Regions from separate parts of the Homo sapiens genome. Here region 1 is linked to region 2. Evidence: fine-mapped expression QTL. A gene starts in region 2. The other region holds a variant in brackets. All regions are shown on one strand. Distances are from middle to middle.

What was found. PIP is the estimated chance that this variant, and not a neighbour inherited with it, causes the effect.
Region 1: its variant is fine-mapped to the expression of MCOLN2 in spleen (GTEx, PIP 0.99).

The regions. Positions count from the first base shown.
Region 1 is chr1:84,933,112-84,937,507 of GRCh38, forward strand. All of the region lies in intron 11 of MCOLN2 (mucolipin TRP cation channel 2), which reads right to left. Among named protein-coding and RNA genes, the nearest start is that of LPAR3, 42 kb to the left of the region's middle. The variant C/T (reference allele first, on the strand shown) is at 2,141.
Region 2 is chr1:84,994,801-84,999,127 of GRCh38, forward strand. MCOLN2 (mucolipin TRP cation channel 2) reads right to left here and starts at 2,313. Exons shown (of 14, transcript NM_153259.4): 1 at 1,996-2,313. The coding sequence starts at 2,072. RefSeq lists enhancers at 796-855, 3,176-4,047 and silencers at 1,656-1,705, 2,316-2,605.

The DNA of each region.
Region 1 (4,396 bases), 62 kb before region 2:
TTCTCTTCTCTGTGTCCAATTAAGCCAATGTTCAAGGGTCATTTCAGAGTGTACTTCAAGACCAAGTGCCCTGGTAGTTCTAGTCCTTTCTCTGCACTCCGTATCGGTAAGAATCACAGAATGAACTATGGTCTTCTAATTGTTTTTATACACACTTCCCTGTACTCCAACTAGATACAAACACCGTGCCTTACACTACCAGCCACGTGGCTGGACCAGGCAAGGTAAAGTTGGTGGCCAAGGGAGAAGGTCTACAAACGCACCCCAAACAAGGATCCCACCCATGGCTTTGCTGCATCAGCAAAAACTCTGATGAACTAAAGTCCTCCTCCAAAAAGACCTAGAGGAAATATCCAAATGAACAGATCACTTAACAATATGTAGATTATTTAACAGTAAAACAGGCGATTGCCAGAGTAAATATTTTCCATACGCTACACAAGCCTTAAAACATTGAAGTTAAAGCTGAAAACATTGACATTAAAGTTGGTTTCTATGGATGTCAACTACAACTCTGACAGCACCATTAATAATTCACATTTCTTAGTTTCTTTTGGAATCCAGTCAACTCCTTTCTCTAGTTTCAAGAACCCCTAACTCCAAGCACAACTGTCTGTGCTTCAGGTTTCAACTGCAAATAGCTAGTTTGTCAGTACATGTCACATTCATTTTTTAATTTTCTGTTTAGTTACTTACCAGGCTACACACAATATCTGTCTCAACATTAACATTATTCATAACCATTTTACCTCCCCCTCCTCTTGTGAACATGAGAATTATTTTAACACACCAAAGAGTTAAAACAGAGACCCAGTCAATTTTAGGTGTTTGGTAACACCCTGCCATTTTGTACAAGAAGTGGCTGTGAACCAGAGTCTATTTCAGTGGCCAAATTCCATAGTAGAAGTGAGCTTAAAAATACTCAAGGTCCTAATGTGCTTCCAGTCTAGAAGGACCACATTTGTAAGGCATTCCTTTGGATCTTGAGTGATCATAAGCCCCTGGAAAGCAGGTACTACTCTCTCTCTGCTTCTTGTTTGTTCAAAACAAACTTTTTGGGCACCTACCATGGTCTATGTGCTGTGCTGGACACTGGGAATGTAAAGAGGAACAAACTACAGTTCCTTCCCTCCAAGAACTTGGTCTACAAGAACCTAGCAATGTTGGGTGCACAGTAGATATTTAATACGTATTAAATGGGTATTTCCATAAAGAGTCCCCATAGGTTCTCTGGGCCCACGATGAGAACTCAACCATTCATTTCACAAATGATAAGTTTGCAGTTGGGCCAAAAACCTTTAATTTCAATGAAACCATAACCTGCAATGGCTTATGTCAGAGAACAACATAAATATTTGCTTTAAGAGCTGGTGCCAAGAATCTCATGCAAACTTTAGGCAAAATGTTTTAGCTGAGGGGTACTTGGCTAAAACCAGAGGGCTTGGAAGGAGGAAAATGTAATGCAGAGTCTGCTGAACTTTGACCCATGGCATCAGTGAAGTCCAACAACTTTTCAAGTCTTGGTCTTCTCATTTGTAAAATGGGGACAATGCAAGGCTATGATTTATTCCTCACAGGAAAAAAAGTCCTCTGGAAATGTAAAAGCCGCATTAGAGTAATGTTTAATAATTCAAGATGAGGTCTGGAAGAACATCAACAGTCTCTCACCCTCTGTGCCCAGGCATTTTGAAAGGGCACTGTGCCAAAGTCCATTAGTGCTGGGAATACACATCAGCAGGAAGCCTTTTGCATCTTGACTCCCTTTCCATTGAGCCCCTGAAATCAGATGCCTAACAGGAAGATAGGAAGCTGAAGTGTTATGGGACCCCAGCTATCAGTCAAACGGTTTTCCTAATGTCTCCTTTTTAGTTGTTTTGTTTTAAAGAAAGAATTAGCTTTCACAATCAAGGTTGCTGTGATTCTAAAAATCCCACAAAAATGCCCGCTTGGAATGCCTAGCTTTTCAAGGCTTCAGGTAACCTGAAAGTCCTCTGATTCAGATACTGGCAGAACCTGAACATGCTGACAGCTTGGATTAATTTGGGGGAAAGGATGCAAGGGGCAATAAAATATTCTAACTTCAGATTCAAAGAGGCAGCAATATGGTGAAGAAAAGCACAAAGTTCCAAAACCAGACTGA[C/T]GTTCTCTCCCCCAACTGACTTGTACATTCAGTGAATTAACTCAGCTGTGTATTTCCCCAATATATCAGCCTGGTGAGAGATGCCATAAACAGACCTGCAGGCAACCCTACAGACATCCCTTATCCCTCCCCTCCTCCAGGGGTATAAAGGAAAGCTAACATTAAGTGAAAGACATAAGTCTAGAGCTGCAATGTCCATAGTGGTAGTCACCAGGAATGTGTGAATAGCCAGCATCCAATAGATAGCTAGTCCAAATTGAGACGTGCTATGTGGATAAAATATCCACCAGATCAAAAAGACTAGTATGGAGGAATGTAAAATATTTCAATATTTTATACTGAATACATGCTGAAATAATATTTTGGGTATATTAGGCTTAAAATATATAATTAAAAATAATTTCATCTGTTTTTTTATTTCTTCATGTAGCTACTAGAAAATTTTACAGTATAGGCAAGGCTCTCAATTGTAGCCCAAACTGTATTTTTCTTGGACAGTGCTGGCTCAGAGCATCCCAGTTTCACCTGGATCCTTTGAAAGGACAAATTGAACATATGGAAATGCAGTCAGGCTCACAAAACAAATAACCTCATTTTCCATGAGGTGACCTTGACACCATTGAAAGAATGAAGCCGATTACATGGCTGTCCTCTCACAGTTGATCTCCAAGTACAAGACTGTTTCTTGTCAGGCTAAATGCTCTCTTGCAATGATCTGTTTTAGATAATACCAAGAAAAGCTCTACAGGGTATGGGTCAAAGCACAGGTACTGGAGTCAGGCCGACCTGGGTTTGAATCCCATCTCTGCCACTTTCTAGCTGGGTAATCTCAGGAATATTATTTAATATATTAAGGTGCCTATTCTCTGTAACAGGACAATCAGATTTCTTCACAGAGAAGGGGAGGGAAGGGTTAACACAGCAAGGGAGATGAAGAATCTTGGGCACCATGCCTAACAGACAGCACTTGAGAATGGTAGCCATCTAGTAAAATTCTAGCAATCTTATCTGAGCACCTTCCAGAATAATGATGAGGTAGGGGAGACGGGGATGGGGTGCAAAGGAGATGGGACCACTTGTCCACAGACCTTGGAGTCAGTGAATTAAAGCCGAATCCTCAGGAACGGTATTTATTCCACACAGTGCAACACTGCCCTCTAGTGACAAAGAGGTGGAAAAGCTTTCAGAGCATGAGGCAAGCAAGGAAGAAAAATACATTTTTCCAGGCTCTAAGACAGTAAGTTCTCCAAATCAGAGAGATCATATCAAAGAATAATTTTTTCTCATGAGTCACCTTTAAAGCAGTGACATGGAGTATGAAGAGCAATATTATCAAGATTTACTACCAACCCAGAGGTTGTCACTTTGTTAATTATATAATATCTCAAATAGGAAAAACAGTAATTCTCTCTAGACATATTAAATGTGACACCTAAAAAGAAGAAAGTCTGAGTGTTCCAGGTTACTCGACATTATTCTGGTAGGACAGCACGGAGGTTTAAGATTCATGTATAACAGTTTGTAAACCAGATTTGATCACAGATTTGGTTAATGCAACTAACAAGGTCAAAACTTAAGGCTGAACTGGTATACAAACTTGGAAGGAATACTTACCATTTTTAACCTCTTTTCTCCTTGCAGAGCACCTAAGTGAGGCTAACAGTACCCTGGGTTGTTGTGGGGAGTAAATAAGAAAGAACACCGAAATGCCCAGCAGAGTGTCTAACACACAAGCAGTAAGTGTTAGCTGCTGCTATTTTTGTTGTTTCTGTTGTTCCAACTGCCACAGGCCCAAATGGAGGAAAAGCCATAAGATAAAATAACTCCTTTTACTTTTTTGGGTTAAAACCAAGGCTTACCTAGTTTCATTTCCTGATGCATCTACCAATCAAATGTATCATTTTATAACAAGAACATCTTAGCACAACTTTGATGTCCCTGAGATTATAATGCTAACTGAAGTTTGGTAATAGTTTAGAATTCAGATACTGATCTTTAATAAGGCAGAAAGATGATGCTGTAATCAAAACCGTCTGCAGAGACAAGACGTGTCACCATTTCTATCGTAAACCTACTATGGTCGTTTTAGGCAGTCTCTGCCCATCTTCATTCTTCTCAATTAACTTGGATGAAAAACATAATACTTTAAATTGGAAATTTTTTATAATAATTTTCCTCACTTAATTTTCATTTTTAATATAGTGATCTCACGTCCAAACATTTCCCATTTGATGATCACCGGGTAACCATGTGACC
Region 2 (4,327 bases):
ATCTCATATGCATTCAAAACTTGGCTAAATGGCACAAAATGCCTAGCTTTTGGTCTGTCTCAGCTTTCAACATACCTTCCTCACTAAGCTTAATCACTCCTACCTTTAAAGTAAGAGACCTGTGATTGTCCCTTGCACTCAAACACTTAGAGACCACTGTAGGGTTATTAGTTGGGCTAATTTCAATATTGTGGTGTCTCAGGGAATAGAGAGGGTTGGGGAGAGGAAAAGAGATAGAAGAATGGCTGGTCGGTGGAGTAGTCAGAACACATACAACATTTATTAATTGAGTTCCCTGTCTTATATGGGCACAGTTCATGGCACCCCAAAACAATTACAGTAGTCACATCAAAGATCAGTGGTCACAGATCACCATAACAGATATAATAATAATGATGAAAAAGTTTGAAATATTGAGAGAATTGCCACAATGTGACATAGAGACACAAAGTGAGCACATGCTGTTGGAAAAATGGCACCAATAGACTTGCTGGACACAGGGTTGCCACAAACCTTCAATTTGTAAAATAAAATAAAATTGAATTAAATGCAGTATCTACAAAGTGCAATAAAGCAAAGAACAATAAAACAAGGTATGCCTGCACTTTTTTCTATGAACCCCTTAACATGTGACACAAGAGCTCACTAAAGAGTGATTTAATTCTTCAGAACTGACACACGGAACTTAGACCCTAGGCCTTAAAGAAAACAGCCCAGCTTCAGGAAAGTCCACTTTTACTTTTACAGCCAGAAGAGTTTTCTTTGGCCACTACTTTTACTTTGAAAGCTATAGTCACAAGAAGCCATCTCTTTTTCCGCCGGTTTTAAAATTGTCTTGTTCTAGGTTTCACTTCACTGACAGAGACATAGCCAAAGAGATCAGCTTGTGAATATGATCATTCTTGACTTTCAGTTCTGTATTTCGTGCCCCTTTGCTCAAACTATGTCTCTCAGTTCTTCTCACTTGCTTCATTAAAATATTTTATATCTATTACTCTATTTTTTTAAAAAAAAACACTTTTGATATGTTCCTCCTTCACAGAAAAGAATGTGGCTACCTCAAACACTTTATTAGGATTCACTCATTTTTTATTACAGGAGGTTAAATAAAATTGGTATTATGATGGCCTCTGTATGGAAAATGTGTCGTTTTTAGAGTTCCGGCCACAGAAACTGACCTATGAACGGTTTTCTAAAGGAGAAGGGTGTGCCTGTGGAAAGTTCACGGCAACGGGAGTTTGACTCCTCTTAAGGTATGAAGAGGAAGACAGGCTAAAGTCTCAAGAAACTTCTGACTCAATAGGGGAAAGCTATCAAATTTCCCAAAAGTTGTGCGATTTTGGTTAGCACATCACAAAGGTGATGAGCAGCTCCTGAGAGTGAAACCCACATCCCATTTCTGGGGAGAACTACGTAGTTGGTTCCCTCTACATAAAATATCAGAGTCTACATCCTGACACCCATAAGAAACCTCTCCCACCTTTCTCTTACTAACCTTTTCTTCCATTCTCAGTTTACAATGACACACAATTTTGTTTCCCACAAGTACCGTTCAACCAGAGACACACACACTTACACATACGTATATATTTCATATATATATATATATATATATATATATATATATATATGTTTGGAGAGCAGGAAACGGGGGAGCCAAGGTCTGTTTGTACTCACAACTTTGGCTCAACTGTGCTGGGGTGGCTGGAGGTTTGACCACGGAGGAGGGGCCCGCTGGCAGCGCCAACCGGCTGAACTGTGCGCCTTTTCATAAAGGCCGAGGAACTGGGGTTAGCCACACTACAACCCTCCCACCTGAGGGAAAGGCCTGTTTGTTCTGGAAGGCACAGCCTAGCCTTATTTAACTAACTGCAAGCAGTTAATATAAGCATTCCCAAGGCAGCAAGCAAGCTCTAGTCTACGAAAGTAAAGCCATCGACTTTAGGAAGATTTCTCCAGTCCAGCATCCTGAAAGATGAAGCCCAGACTCCTCACCTGACGGTTAACCTGAAAACACCTGATCCTCTCTCCGGAATCCTTGCCTGGGGAAAACGATAAGGCTGCCGGGCCATGCCTCCTCCTTCAAAACTTTCCAGGGCTCTCGGGATTCGGAACAGGAAACACCGTTCACGGCCGACTCATTTCGCCCTCGCCGTAACGCGTCCGCCGAAGTTGGAGCCCTGCAAAGCGGGGTTCCCTTCTCTTACCCTTTCTGCCGGCCGCGTGGTGCGCGCAGACCCCGGCCCGAGAGCAGGCGCCGCAGTCGTGGAGTGCGGCGGGCAGTTCTCGGGCGGCTGAAAGGCGGCTCTGTGTGCACCCTGCAGGATGCGGCGCGTGGCCAGGCGCTCCCGCCCCGCCCCCAAGGGGCTGCCCCGCCCCGCCCCGCCCCGCCGCCTCCTACCGGGGACCGGAGCTTCCCCAGTTGGGGTCCTAGGGGACTTATTCCACGCTTCAGCGGACCAGCCTCCCCGCGCTCCCGGAGAAGGGGGTCGGCGACGCGGAGGCGGGGTGGGGGCCGTAGGGGATGGAACCGAGGCGCGCGCGAGAAGAGCCGAGGAAGTAAGCAGTCCCAAAAGGGGGCGGCGGTGGGGCCCCCAGGGAGGCGTGGGGCACGCCAAGGGCGCCGTGGGGCACTGACCTGTGGTGCGGCCCCCAGGACAGGCCCGAGGCGCGGTTGCACACCGGCAGGTCCAGCACCTCCATGCCTCGAGGCATGGCGCGGCCAGGGAGCGGCAGGAGGACACCTAGCGTGGGACGGCTACACCTGTCTGGGCGCAGGCCCGCCGCCCTTGCACTCTCCACCCAAGTGCCCAACGCTGCGGTACGGCCCGCTTTGGCTCGGGGTGTCTGCCGGAGAAGCGCCTTACAGAGGGACCCGGGCGGTGGGCCCTGCGGCAAAGTGGCCCACGCACCCTCCACACCGCTCCCGGGCGGCCGCACCTGGCACTCCCGGCCCTCTGGGGTTCCTGCCTTTTTCGGGGGGGTGGTGGTGAGACCGGGTCTCACTCTGTCGCCTGACCTGCGATCACTGCTGACTGCAGTCTTGAACTCCTGGACCCAAGCGATTCTCCTGCCTCCGCCTCCCAAAGTGCTAGGATTACAGGTGTAAGCCGCTGCGCCTGGCCCCTTCTTTTCTTCACTCTCTCATGCATTCATTTCTTGTTTCCACATGCATTAATTTGTCCGTTGCTTTGGTCATTCCTGTTTTGATGCTTAGGGAAACACTCACTGAGAGCCAAGCCGACCGTTGGGTACTGTGGTCTCTGGGATGACAAAGACATGGTCCTTTCCCTTGAGGACTTCACATTAAACTGACAAGTTCATTCATTCTGGCTTTTCTCTAAAGTGCACGATCATGAAAGTCTGTGACAAGGGCCATATTTCTGAGATGTTAGAAAGTGCGACCGGCGCGCAAGGAATAGGAAAAGCGAGTTGCCCTGCGCCCGCGTCGGGATGAAAGGCAGGGAGCCGGGAGGGAGCGTCAGCGTGGCCCGGCGGGCGCGGAGGGAGGGCGCACGGCCCCAGGGCTGGACTCGTAACCCCAGCGCCCTGCTGCAGCCGCCGTTGCTTTTCCCTCTTGGTGCACGAAAGGAAGACGCCTGTGGGAAATCGAACAGACAATCGGTCGCCGTTCGTGAATCTTAGAGATGAGAGTCGTCAGTACATGACCAAAAGCCGTGTTCGGCTCCTAGTGATGTTAGCTTGGTAGTTTGGACGTGGCCGACAGCCTCCTAGAGCTCGTACCCCTCCTTTTCACGAGGTAGCAGCAGCAAAGTCCGCAGTGCCAGGCTCTGTGAGTCTGCAAGCGTTTAAAAGATCTCCGGGTTTAGCTCAGGCAAAGAATATTCTGCCAGGTAATTATTTTAATATGCGTGTCCAGGCAGAAGCAGTTGGACAGACGATGTATATAAAAGCACACATAATTGACCCTCTTTTAAGGCACTTCCAAGGGGTTATTAGGCAGAAATGCCTTGGTTTTGAGCCCCTTTCATCGGAGGTGCGCAATCATCCAGCTTTGTGAATAGTAACTGCACTCCAGCCTGGGCAACATAGTAAGACCCCAACCTTTTGGCACCAGGGACTGGTTCCATGGAAGATGATATTTTCCACGGACAGGTGGGGGGATGAGGGGAGGATGTTTTCGGGATGAAACTGTTGCACCTTAGATCAGTAGGCATTAGAGTCTTATAAGGAGCACACAACCTGCAACTTAGATCCATCGCATGCGCAGTTCACAGTAGGGCTTCTGCCCCTATGAGAATCGAGTGGAACCGCTGCTCTCTTGCTCAATGTTCACTTCCTGCAGCGCGGCTTGGTTCTTAACAGG